Linked DNA regions of Homo sapiens: regions 2, 3 and 4 are each reported to be linked to region 1. Evidence: microRNA targets listed by miRTarBase, many of them from high-throughput screens and not tested one by one. Region 1 holds a microRNA gene; each other region holds the end of a gene's coding sequence.

Region 1 (3,184 bases):
TCGAGTCTATCAGAGACCTGCAACCCTTTTCTGTAGTGCATCATATAGTAAATCTTTTGGGCTTTGCAGACATGCAGTCTCTGCTGCAACTGCTCAGCTCTGCTGTGTAGCATGAGAGCAGCCATAGACAATATGAAAATGAGTGAGTGTGGCCGTGTTCCAATAAAACTTTATTAATGAACACTAAAATTAAGTTCATAGAATTCCACATCACAAAATATTTTTCTTTTTGAACTTTTTCAACTACTTACAAGTGTAAAAACCATTTTTACCTTGTGGGCCATTGTTTGCTGACCCCGGGTCTATGCAGTTAACCTTGACCTTTTTCAACATGTTAAAGAGGTTAACCCACATTTACCGAGGGCCACTGACCTGGGCACTGTGTGGGGCGCTCCATGTCCTGGTCCACGGACTTGCTAGTCCACAGACTTGCTACCTTCATCTATAGGTAGCTCCTGCTACCGTTATTCACACTGTATAGATGAAGAAAGCAAAGCGGTCCTACTACAGGTGGAACAAGGACACGCAGCCAGCCAGGAACTGAGCTGACATCTGTTGATGGACAGGAAGGAAGGATTTGGGTCAGCCATCAAGACTCTCTCAGGACCTGAGGAAAAGGGCGGGAAACTTAGGAGCAAGATGACAGGAGGGCAGATGCTCCGTGAGGATGGCAGGAAGAGGACATGTATGCTTAATATTCTGGAAAATCCTCTGGGATAAGGCCAGGCACAGTGGCTCATGTCTGTAATTCCAGCACTTTGGGAGGCCAAGGCAATCGGATCATTTGAGGTCAGGAGTTCAAGACCAGCCTGGGCAACATGGTGAAATCTCATCTCTACTAAAAATACAAAAATTAGCTGGGTATGGTGGCGTTCACCTATAATCCCAGCTACTTGGGAGGCTGAGACAGGAGAATCACTTGAGCCCGGGAGGCAGAGGTTGCAGTGAGCAAAGATCACACTACTGCACTCCAGCCTTGGTGACAGAGTGAGATTCTGTCTAAAAAAAGAAAAAAAACTATTCAAAATCCTCCAGGATAAAACTCTCTGTTGAAGGAAGCTTTAATCAGCAGCGAGCACATCAGGCACACTCGTTGCTGCCCCTTCTCATCCCGCATTCCCTCTGCTTTGGTCAGGTGGTGCCCTCCTTCCATGGGTAGAGCCAGAGATGGTGGGTTCTGGCTGGTCAGATGGGAGTGGACAGAGACCCGGGGTCCTCCCGGCTTCATGACTGCACGTGGTGGGCCCTGCACTGTGTGTCTACTGGGATGGATCAAGGTGCAACCAGAGAAACCTTGAGCCCTCTCCAGATACTTGAGTGGTAGCTGAGTTCCTGCAGCCTCTGTGAGCTCCCTTCTGAGCCTCTGGCTCCCAGTTTCCCAGTACCCTTTCTGTATTAGCTTCCTGGGGCTGCCCCGACAAAGTATCACAAACTCAGGGGCTTCCGCAACAGAGATTTATTCTCTCACAGTCCTGGAGGCTAGAAATTTTTGGACTTCTAGCTTCCCGGACTTGATTGGCAGGGCCACACTTCCTTCTAAGGCTCTGGCTGGGGGTGGGGGTCCTTCCTGCTTCTGCCAGCTTCTGGTGATGCTGACAATCCCTGGCATTCCTTGGCGTGTGGGTGCATTACTCCAATCTCTGCCTCCCTCTTCACATGGTCTTCTCTGTGCGTACGACTGTGCATCCTCTCCTCTCGTAAAGGGCAGCAGTCGTTGGATTTAGAGCTCACCCTACTGTGGTATGATCTCATCTTAATGACATCTGCAACAGCCCTGTTTCCAAATAGGGCCACATTCTGAGGTTCTGGGTGGACATGAATTTTGGGGTGGGAAACACTCTTCAAGCCAGTAAATCTTCCTCCCCAAATCTTGCTAGGTTTCCAATGCCTAAAAGAAGTGCTAATTGGAGAAAATAAGAATAGTTTTCTACTTATCTCAGGAGCGGGAAAAGATGGCAAAATGGCATGGCCAATTTTGGAAAGAATATATAGGGTGTTGTAAAGATATGTGATGATGATGAGGATGATGTTTTCACCAATATTTGCAGCCTCTTGTCCACACAGAAGGATTAGGAAGATTAATGCCTTCGAAATCAGCTATATTTTAGCACTCTGTTTTTAGTGTTTTCATGATTATCCTGGTGTCCTTGTTTTTGAGGTGGCTGCTATAATTATGGTAACGTGTGTGAGTAGGTTAGAAAGATGTTACAAGTGATTAAGCTATAAATTAGTCACTTTGGAGTGTGTAATAGTTCTTTCAAGTCCCCAGCATATAAGGGAAAGTGACACTGGTCTACAATGACTGTCTCCATGCTTCCATGCAGAAATTGAGACCTGGAGAATGTAAAGACTTGCCCAAGTTCTGTGAGTGAGTCAGTGCTAGAAAAATCTTGAGCCCAGCCCCCCAGATGTGATGACTATTCTCTTTCAAATATTTCTACAGGATTAGAATGGGCGCTCAGGCTTGGCTCAGACACCCCACATCTTTAGGTGAGTGGCTTTTAAATTGCCATTTGGTCACGCCTACTTGGCAGAGTTGCAAACACGGGCTGCAGAGTTCACACCCGCACCCTCCTCTCTGGAAGTGGAGTGAGAACAGGGTGGGCAGAGGTGGGGCTGCCACACCTGCTTCCCTGGAAACCCGAGGGAGAGCACAGGACGCCAGGCTGGGACTCGGCTGGCAGCTGCTTCGGGCGTCTCACCTTGTGACTATTTCCTGGGCACTGTGGGAGAGGAGGCCTCTTGCCTGAGCTCCTGTCCCTACTGTCTCCTCTCACTAAATGCACGGCACGGCTTTGCGGTAATAGGCTGGGACATGTCAACTCTTTTTTTTTTCTGAGACGGAGTTTCTCTTGTTGTCCAGGCTGGAGTGCAATGGCACGATCTCGGCTCACGCAACCTCTGCCTCCTGAATTCAAGCAATTTTCCTGCCTCAGCCTCCCAAGTAGCTGAGATTACAGGCATGCGCCACCACGCCTGGCTAATTTTGTCTTTTTAGCAGAGACGGGGTTTCTCCATGTTGGTCAGGATGGTCTTGAACCCCCAACCTCAGGTGATCCGCCTGCCTCGACCTCCCAAAGTGCTGGGATTACAGGCATGAGCCACTGTGCCCAGCCAACATGTCAACTCTTTAGGAGAGTTTGAAGACAAAAAATAACCCATGTCTGAGCATGGGAGGTGCTAA
Region 2 (3,184 bases), not on the chromosome of region 1:
ATTCCATTTAAAAATTTCACTTATTATAGTGTGACTTGAATGTTGACACTGATGTATATAAATAATGATTGTGCTACCAGCCTTTGGTTAAGACCTAAAAATAATAAGTACGCTTTCAGTTTTTAAGTATAAGGTTTTTAATTAAAAATACTTCTATCTTTTGTTTAGGTTATGCCAAGGTCTAGAGTGGATGACCTCCCGGATTGGTGTGAGATAACTTTTTTGCTTGAAAGAGACTGCTCTATTTATTCTGTGACATGAACATTTTTTCCTAGTACCTTTGGCTGCTAAGGCAGCAGCATGTTTAATTTATAACAACACAAACCTCTGAGAGCAACACTTGAATCAAGTGCAGCTGAACTGGAACATAAAAGATTTTTTCTTAACTTTTTTTTTTTAACACACTAATCTTCAGTTGGATGAATGTAATGTATAACTATGTTTTCAGCAACAATTCTTCTGTTTATTCTAATTAATCAGTGACTGCCTTGTAAGAAATGTTTGTCATATGCGTGATGTCTTCTGAAATATTCTTATAACCTTAATGACCAATTGCTTTCAATTCTTGACCAGCACTCCCTCCCAACCAGAGAATTACTGGTTTGATAGAGTAGTCTTGGAAACCATCAGGTACTGCCTGCAGACTTCTCCAGCACTAAATATATTTGTTCCCTCTATAAACCATTCATCTTTCGGACAGAACTTACTGTAAAGAAAGAAATCTGCCTAGAGGATATATGTAAGGAAGATTCCACATCATGAGTACTTGCCTTTTAACTTTCCCCCACATTACTGTTGAGTCATGGAATAATGTTTAAGTTGTTATTTGCATGGAAATTAAGTAGGCTGTTTATTTATCTAAAGGAATCAAGTCCACTCTTCTGCCTGCAACATTTGTTCAAAAACTAACCAAGGTAAAATATTTATTTGAAAGCCCAACTTTGATGTTAAATATTCTTGAATAAATCTGTTATTTTAAGAATATCACATTATTCAATGCATATAAAACTATCAGAAGTTAGTAAATCATACCAGCACTAAAAATAAGACAATTGGAATATATTTTAGCATCAGTTTACAAACAACTTTATTATCAACAGAAATTTTAGCTCTTTTCTTTGCAAGATATATCACAGCTGCTTTGGGCAGTAGCTGAAGCCGAAGTATGAACAGTCCATTTTGTTTCTTAAAATTTGAAGTCGTGTCTGTCATAGCATTTTTACTACCAGCAGTATGTTACTTAAAAAACTACATGGCTTTCCTTGAATTTATTTGACGGTATTATGTAATAGACTTGAAACAATTGCCATCTTTGTAGTTATGCCTTGGGTTCTAAAATGTTATAGGAAACTGCTGAATTGAATCCTAGCTTTTAGAATATTAATAGGAGACTCAAAGTTAATATTCTTAACAACTTAAAATTAAAAAAAGTCATAATCTATCAAAAGTTTATTTATTGGATGGCATTAAAACATTTTTGAGGCAGTTGTCTAATATGAACAATAATCTAAACAATATATTCCTTAAATTAAGAGGAAAGACAAGTGTCGTATTTCGATCCTGTTTATTCAAATGTGTGATTTTGCTGAAATGAAAGGGATAAAATGAATACTTAGAGAATAATACTTCATTTTTGCAGTACTTTTTAATTTTGATAAAAAAGATACAAAGTTCATAATATCAAAATATGTGTTCAAAATTGGTATTTTAATTTTAATATTTTTGTAAGTTGATTTAAATTTTGCTCTTTTTTCAGGTGTGCTTGGTTTATTATATTTAGTCAAGTTAATTTAGTCGAATGTGGTAACATTTTTCTGATTTATCTTTAGTTGGAGCACACCCTTGAACTGAACAGTGGCCAAAGGAAAGCTTTCTGGGCTTTGGAAAGTAGTTGTTTAACTTTGTTTTAAGCCGTTTTCTTAGTGATTCTGTATCAAGTAGAGGATAAGTGTAGTTTAACTTAGTTTTTAATATAACCCATAATCAAGAACATGAGCGAAAAGCAGACATAAATCGATATGGATGGTTTGTGGTGTGTGTGGGATGTGGGGGAATTAAGAAAATGCCATTTACCTAAGCACAGTTTGCCTGAATTTCTGCTTGGTTGTGTTGTTTACCGTAAGTACTGAGGGTAGTTTCCCTAAGTCTGTCCTGAGAAAAAGCATACTTAGTACTCCTGTATTTGTTCTTATGAAATGACTATCTGCCTTCTTGTATCTAGTAAGATTGGCTGGCTCAATTTTCTTCTGTCAAATTATATGGTTATTTTTTATATTACCACATCAGCATTATATTAAAAGTGTTTTTAATAGTTGATTGTATTTTGCCAACTACTAGTATAGACTCAAATTTGCTATTTAATTTTTAAAATACAATTTATTTTGTAAATCCTTTAAAAAATATTTGGTTAGTTTTGGATTAGAAATGATTTATGTTAGCCATGTGTTGAAGATGAAATTGGCATCAGTGTAGACGGTGCTGATTGGGAAAAGTTCATGATTAGGAAATTCATGTAAGACTTTTTAAGAGTATTTTTTAGGTTTTCACTCAATCTTTCCTGTCACAGTAACGTGAAAACTGATTATTCTTTACTCCAAGAGAATGTTTTAACCCAAGCAAGTATCTAATACTAGAGCATTGGTTCTGACATTCATTGTAAATCAGTGAACTGTAAGATACTGTCTAAAAAATGTACATTTGTAATTAGTGCCTTTATTCATATTTTGAAATAAGTTCTTAGTTTTATATTATACCTGTTCTTTAGAAGTCATGTTAGCAGCTAATTATTTCAGTGATGAAATAATTTGTGTTTTATATCCCCCTTCACCTCCATGTATTGGTTAGCACAGTTTATAGTAAGTGAAAAGCAAGGGACCCACCTACATTACCTTCAGGAGACTGTTCTACCTTTTAATTTGAAAACAAGGAAATTAAATTTTAACAGAAATCTTTTAAGTATGTTATAACCAAAGTGTTCAATTATCCTTGCAAGTTCAAATACAGCATTTTTCTTAATTTTGAGCGTGTCATGTCCTTCATCTTTAAACCCATCATTCTTATTGAAGCCCATTTGAGAACTCTTAGAATTAATAGAACCTTTTATAAGGGAATATATGGAATATTTTTTATTGTTAATGTAACTTAATTCCTTAAAACCTGGAATATTAATATATATAATCTATTA
Region 3 (3,184 bases), not on the chromosome of region 1:
CCAATAAGAACAAAGGTAAGAGTCACTTGTTAAATAAAACAACACAAAATGCAGGAATATAACATGTGGCAAACTATCAGGAGTGTGAAATAACCGATGCATTCTTTCTTGTTTAGGCATCATCTGGGGAGAGGATACACTGATGGAGTATTTGGAGAATCCCAAGAAGTACATCCCTGGAACAAAAATGATCTTTGTCGGCATTAAGAAGAAGGAAGAAAGGGCAGACTTAATAGCTTATCTCAAAAAAGCTACTAATGAGTAATAATTGGCCACTGCCTTATTTATTACAAAACAGAAATGTCTCATGACTTTTTTATGTGTACCATCCTTTAATAGATCTCATACACCAGAATTCAGATCATGAATGACTGACAGAATATTTTGTTGGGCAGTCCTGATTTAAAACTAAGACTGGCTTGTGGTTAAATGAATATGTTCAGTTTTTGAATTTTAATAGTAACTCCAATTCAGTAAATGGTATCACTGTTTACCCCTTTTAAAGATATGATTAGACTTCGTTAGTAATGTTCAACTTTTCACAAAGATGGTGAGTGCCATCTTAAAACTTACTGGAGATTGGTTTTATATTTAGATTTATATAACTGGTTATGTGAATATATTTAAATACTGGGGAAATTGCTTCACTGTCTTAGAACCAAGCAAGATTCACCTGTGTTTTGTGTTCATGTTCATTTGCCTCTTAAAGGCAAGGGTTGAAGATAAATAAGGTAGCAATGTCTATAGTTTTGGCCTTAACTATGCCAATCTAATTATAATTCCCTGTATTTAAAATGGTTTCTTTTACTTATTGAAAGGCATTTTAGTGTGGTTTATGTGTAATATTAAAGATTATTCAACACCTCTCACATCTTACAGATCTATAAGGTCACATGCTTTTAAAATAGTAGCAAGTTAAACTTCACTCTTGAATTCTTTACAATCTAAGTCAAACTAAGTTATAATTTAGGATTGTCTTTAAACAGCCATTCAGAAACAAAACTGTAGAACTGTGTATTTGATTGGGAATGGTGCTTTTGCCAACTTAAAAGGATTAAAGTAACGGAGATATACACAAATTTTAAAATTATGTGTGATCACAAGACTAAAGATAATTAAAAAGAAAACCACAGATCATGACTTTTTGACTGTGCTTGATTTCATGACTGATGCACAAATTTTAATGATTAAAAAGTGCAGGAGCCCTAAATGTCAGTGCAGCAGCCCTAAATGTCAGTGCAGCAGTGTTAACCAGTCATGGTGCTAGATTGTTTACTTGGTTTTCTAGGACTGCCTCAACTAGAATAACACTTCACTAATTGACTCTTAGTTTCTTTGCTCAGATTGAGAACTGCAGCATTTATGCCAGACATGGACAGAGGAATGCCTGTGGTCATAGTTTTGTGATGTGTAACAGTGTATAATTACATACTGAATTATTTCATGCATAGTCTGTGCCATACACATTTAGAGTAGTCCTTGGAGATTTTATGGAGATGGTGAGCACAAGGTAAGTCATAAAGAATAATGAGAAAATAAATCTATGCTGGTGCAGCTGAGAACTGTATCTTTGTGGGACAGTGAGAAGACTGAGAAGATGTGAATCCATGGTCTCAAAGGTGATAGGGACGATTAGATAGGTGTTTTAAGGCCTGAAAGCAATTTATAACATATGAGTCTTATTTTTATTTATAGAAATGTGGAAAGCTTGCTGTAATTCATATTTGAAGTCCTAGTCTGAGTTCTGGTGGGGAATTTAAAAATGCATCCTGGAAATCCTTTAAAGATTTCAGACTTTGAAAGGCCTTGTAGCAGAGGACTTGGTGACTGTATAAAGTTAGTGGTATTCAGGGACAGTGTAGCAAGTAGCTTACAAGGGGACAATTCTGGACTAATGAGAAAGACCTGAAGTGAAGGCTAGAGAGTTGATTTTTTTTTTTTTTGGCATCCTGGAAATGATACAGGAAACATATTAAGATAGATACAGAAATGTGTTCAACCTTCCATCTTGGCTAGTTGTGGCGTTTAGTTTGTTTTTTGAGACATGGTCACGCTGTGTCGCCAAGGCTGGAGTGCAGTGGTGCGATCTCGGCTGGCTGCAACCTCTATTTCCCAGGCTCAAGCGATTCTCTCACTTCAGCTTCCCAAGTAGCTGGGACTACAGGTGTTCGCCACCATGCCCAGCTAATTTTTTTGTAGAGATGGAGTTTTGCCATGTGGTCCCAGGCTGGTCTCAAACTCCTGAGCTCAAGCAATCCGTCCACTTGCCTTGGCTCCCCAAAGTGCTGGGATTACAGGCGTGAGCCACCAGGCCCTGCCTGGTTTTCAAATTCAGAAATCTTATTATTTAACCCAGAAGTAATCAGCCCAGTAGTAACTTAGGTTTAATTTTTTTTCAGGTTTAAAATTTTTCTCATTTATTTTTTCTGAGACGGAGTTTCGCCCTTTTCGCCCAGGCTGAGTACAGTGGTGCAATCTCACTGCAACCTCCGCCTTCCAGTTGCAAGTGATTCTCCTGCCTCAGCCTCCTGAGTAGCTGGGATTACAGGCACCCGCCACCACGCCTGGCTAATTTTTGTATTTTTAGTGGAGATGGTGTTTCACCATGTTGGCCAGACTGGTCTTGGACTCCTGACCTCGTGATCCACCCACCTTGGCCTCCCAAAGTTCTAGGATTACAGGTGTGAGCCACCACGTCCGGCCAATTTTTCTCATTTCTATGCCTCCTATATTAAGGTCTGTGTTGGCACAGATGAGTAACTGCCATGTTCTAGGTCAGTTATACCCAAGCACTTCTGGTGGTTTAAAATGTGATTCTGTAACTTTTTTATTTTTATTTTTTTGAGATAATTTCACTCTTGTTGCCCAGGCTGGAGTGCAATGGCGTGATCGCTGCTCACCGCAACCTCCGCCTTCCAGGTTCAAGCGATTCTCCTGACTCAGCCTCTCAAGTAGCTGGGATTACAAGCATGCGCCACCATGCCCAGCTTATTTTGTGTTTTTAGTAGAGACAGGGTTTCTCCATGCTGGACAGGCTGGTCTTGAACTCCCGACGTCAGGTGATCTACCTGCCTCGGCCTCCCAAAGTGCTGGGATTACAGGCGTGAGCCACCACGCCTGGCCAATTATGTAATTTTTTAAAAAGGACATTTCTATCAGGGATATATACCTTCAGAAATAAGGA
Region 4 (3,184 bases), not on the chromosome of region 1:
ATCCTCACGATAGTGCTGTCTCAGGAAAACTGCTATACAATTGGATGAGAGAAACTAGTCTAGATTGAAACAAGTACAGAATCAAGAAAAGTTGTGACAAATTTATTTGGGACTGTTTGGGAAGAATCAATGATGTGCATAAAAAGCCAAAAAAAAGAGCATTAACTCCAAGACAAAACGTTGTATGAGAATGAAAATGTAAGCACATTAAATTAATTCACGAGTGAACATACAAGTATGATCACAGCTATGCAAACAGGTACATGATCTAACCAAAATAATATTAGAAGGATGTGAAACAATAAAAGAAATTTTCACCTGTCTTAATAGTAAGTTGACAAACACCTAAAAAATAAATGGCTGTATAATCATATTATTTAGAAACCTAAAACCAAAAACTGAAGGCTGAAAGAACCGAGCTAGAAAAAACTGAAGGCTGAATGTCTCTTGGGATGGGACTGAGGAATAGGAAAGGATGGAGCAAGGGGCTTTCCTTATTAGCCTTGAAGTACCATTAAACTATGTTCAGGCTGGGCACGGTGGCTCATGCCTGTAATCCCAACACTTTGGGAGACCAAGGCGGGCAGATCACTTGAGGTCAGGAGTTCAAGACCAGCCTGGCCAACATGGTGAAACCCCATCACAACTAAAAATATAAATTAGCCAGGTGTGGTGGAACACACCTGTAATCCCAGCAACTCAGGAGGCTGAGGCAGGAGAATCGTTTGGACCCTGAAGGCAGAGGTTACAGTGAGCCAAGATTGCGCTACTGCACCCCAGCCTGCGCAACAGAGGGAGACTGTCTCAAAAACAAACAAAAACCTATGTTCATACAACACTTTAATAAAAATTCATTATTTATTTATAATTACATGTACATACATATATGCATTTGAATATCTAGAAGAAACTACCATTTGCAATCTCTTTTCCATGGTTCTAACCTACTTGGAACATAACCAAGTGACAACATACAAACAAGTTCTAGATTCTAAACCTGTTTTCCACTGCACTGTAACTGGGGGATGGGACTCAGCAACAGTGACTCCATAAGCCAGCAAATGATTTTCACCTAGAGGGAGCACCAGACTTCCAAGAGTTGTTGGGATGTGGGAGGGGAACACTAGTTTGGAAAAAAGACCTTAAATGATTTTGATACTTCTCCCTACAGTATATATGCTTCCCTACCCCTCACGGCGACCTACAGCAAGAGTATCAAAGAAACAAGTCTACGGATTTGAAATGGCATGTTGCTTGCACTATATATTTTAATCTAAAGTTTATTAAATGTTAACGTGTTGTCAAAATGCTTTTCATAAAATGAAAGAAATATACCTCATGGGCAAACAAGCAGCAATATTCTTTTTTGTTTTGCTTTTGAGACAAGGTCTCACTCGTCACCCAGGCTGGAGTGGCACAATCACGGCTCACTGCAGCTTTGACCTCCTGGGCTCAAGTTACCCTCTTGCCTCAGCACCCAAGTAGATAAAGAGTAGAAGCACACACCACCACACTCATTTTTTAAATTTCTGGTAGAGACAGGGTCTCGCTATGTTGCCCAGGCTGGTCTCAAACTGGGCTCATGCCATCCTCCCGCCTCAGCCTCCCCAGAGTGCTGATTATAGGCATGAGCCACACTGCATGTTGCCAAGCAGAAATATTCTTGAAAGTCAGAAACCTTAATCCCAATTATGTATTGCTACATTCTTTTCATCTACTTTAATGTTTGTAAATATACACATAAAGCTTTGTCTCCCTGCCCACCTGGCCTAGTCATTTTGGACTCTGTACCTCAAAGCCATAAATAATATTTCTTCTATTAGAAGAGAAGCACTTTCAGTGTGGAAAAAAATCTTTATTTCAAAGTAAAATGCACAAAGTCTCATACAGCAGATAAAATCAGTGTTACTGCTCTCAGATGTTAAGGTTAGCAACCTTTCTGGCATATGCTAATTCATCATGAACTCCCAATAGCTGAACTGAATGGCTTTTAAGTACAGCTATAAGGTCTCATGGTATAATTCCTTTTGTTGATGCCAGTGACAGGATTTTAAAAGCTACATTCCATTAAAAATTAAAAATACAGCAGCTTTTCCAGGGGAACTAGATCCCAAAATTGTACCCAGAACTCTTGTCTAAGATATTAAGTTAAATATCTTGCATGTATATATCATTATAGTAAATCAGTATTCTTGACAACCACAGTGTAAGAAATTAAACTTTGGCTAATTGTTTTCCCCATCATGAAATCAGTCTTTTGCTGTCTTCATAAATAAATTATGACCAAACATTACAAATACTTTATACATGTTTACTGATTTACAGAGAATATTTAATAATCAGAACTCACCAGTTTCAATAGTATTGTACATTAAATTATAAGCAATATAACCACTGCTACAAAAGTTATCTAAGTTAATCCAGGATAAAAACTGTGTCTAGAGTTTAAATACATTGAAATAGAAAAAAAAATAGAAATTAGAAAATAGTCTTCAAGTTCTGAAAATCTAGAAGAATTCTCCAACATCTGCTCTCTTATCTCGACATTTGCTTCTAGCTTTGGTTCGAGCTTTGAAGGCTGCAGAGTTATATAAATGCTAAAATGAAAAAAAGGAAAAACGTGCATCAGTAAGACTTAAGATATTCTTACAAAACAGAAAAAGGGTAAAAGTCACAAAGAAAAGAAATGAACTAATTTGACCCTATAAACATTTAAATGTTTATAAAACACACACAAAGAATGAAGGAGAAAAACAAAGAGTTAACAGGGGCCATGCAAGGTGGCTCACACCTGTAATCCCAGCACTCTGGGAGGCCGAGGTGGGCGAATCACGAGGTCAGGAGATTGAGACCATCCTGGCTAACACGGTGAAATCCCGTCTCTACTAAAAATACAAAAAATTAGCCAGGCATGGTGGCACATGCCTGTAGTCCCAGCTACTCGGGAGGCTGAGGCAGGAGAATCGTTTGAACCCGAGAGGCAGAGGTTGCAGTGAGCCGAGATCACGCCACTGCACTCCAGCCTGGGCAACAGAACGAGACTCCGTCTCAAAAAAAATAAATAAATAAAGAGTTAATGGCTATTCCATATTAAGAAAAGTACTAATCAAATTGTAAAACGCCAAGAAAGTTAGACGATTTCAAAAACCAACAGTGAAAAATGGACATCAACATTGTTTCATCC

What was found. Region 1 holds the annotated microRNA hsa-miR-6131 (GGCUGGUCAGAUGGGAGUG, at 1,180-1,198, shown strand). A microRNA usually pairs through its seed, bases 2 to 8, with sites in the 3' UTR of a target mRNA and lowers its output. Matches are read on the target gene's strand: a 7mer-m8 pairs with bases 2 to 8, a 7mer-A1 pairs with bases 2 to 7 and ends in A, and an 8mer does both.
Region 2: the mRNA of ARL5B is a reported target of hsa-miR-6131. Seed matches in the 3' UTR shown: 8mer at 568-575, 7mer-A1 at 1,031-1,037 and 7mer-A1 at 1,225-1,231.
Region 3: the mRNA of CYCS is a reported target of hsa-miR-6131. The part of its 3' UTR that is shown has no 7-base or 8-base seed match.
Region 4: miRTarBase lists IFRD1 as a target of hsa-miR-6131. Seed matches in the 3' UTR shown: 7mer-m8 at 1,563-1,569.

Annotation. Positions count from the first base shown.
Region 1 is chr5:10,476,928-10,480,111 of GRCh38, forward strand. MIR6131 (microRNA 6131) reads left to right here and starts at 1,110; the gene lies at 1,110-1,218. It also overlaps a transcript of ROPN1L not described here.
Region 2 is chr10:18,675,000-18,678,183 of GRCh38, forward strand. It overlaps ARL5B (ARF like GTPase 5B), which reads left to right. Exons shown (of 6, transcript NM_178815.5): 6 at 169-3,184. The coding sequence ends at 217. Among named protein-coding and RNA genes, the nearest start is that of ARL5B, 17 kb to the left of the region's middle.
Region 3 is chr7:25,120,782-25,123,965 of GRCh38, reverse strand. It overlaps CYCS (cytochrome c, somatic), which reads left to right. Exons shown (of 3, transcript NM_018947.6): 2 at 1-15; 3 at 117-3,184. The coding sequence ends at 265. Among named protein-coding and RNA genes, the nearest start is that of CYCS, 2.9 kb to the left of the region's middle.
Region 4 is chr7:112,474,843-112,478,026 of GRCh38, reverse strand. It overlaps IFRD1 (interferon related developmental regulator 1), which reads right to left. Exons shown (of 12, transcript NM_001550.4): 12 at 824-2,597. The coding sequence ends at 2,508. Among named protein-coding and RNA genes, the nearest start is that of LSMEM1, 4.6 kb to the left of the region's middle.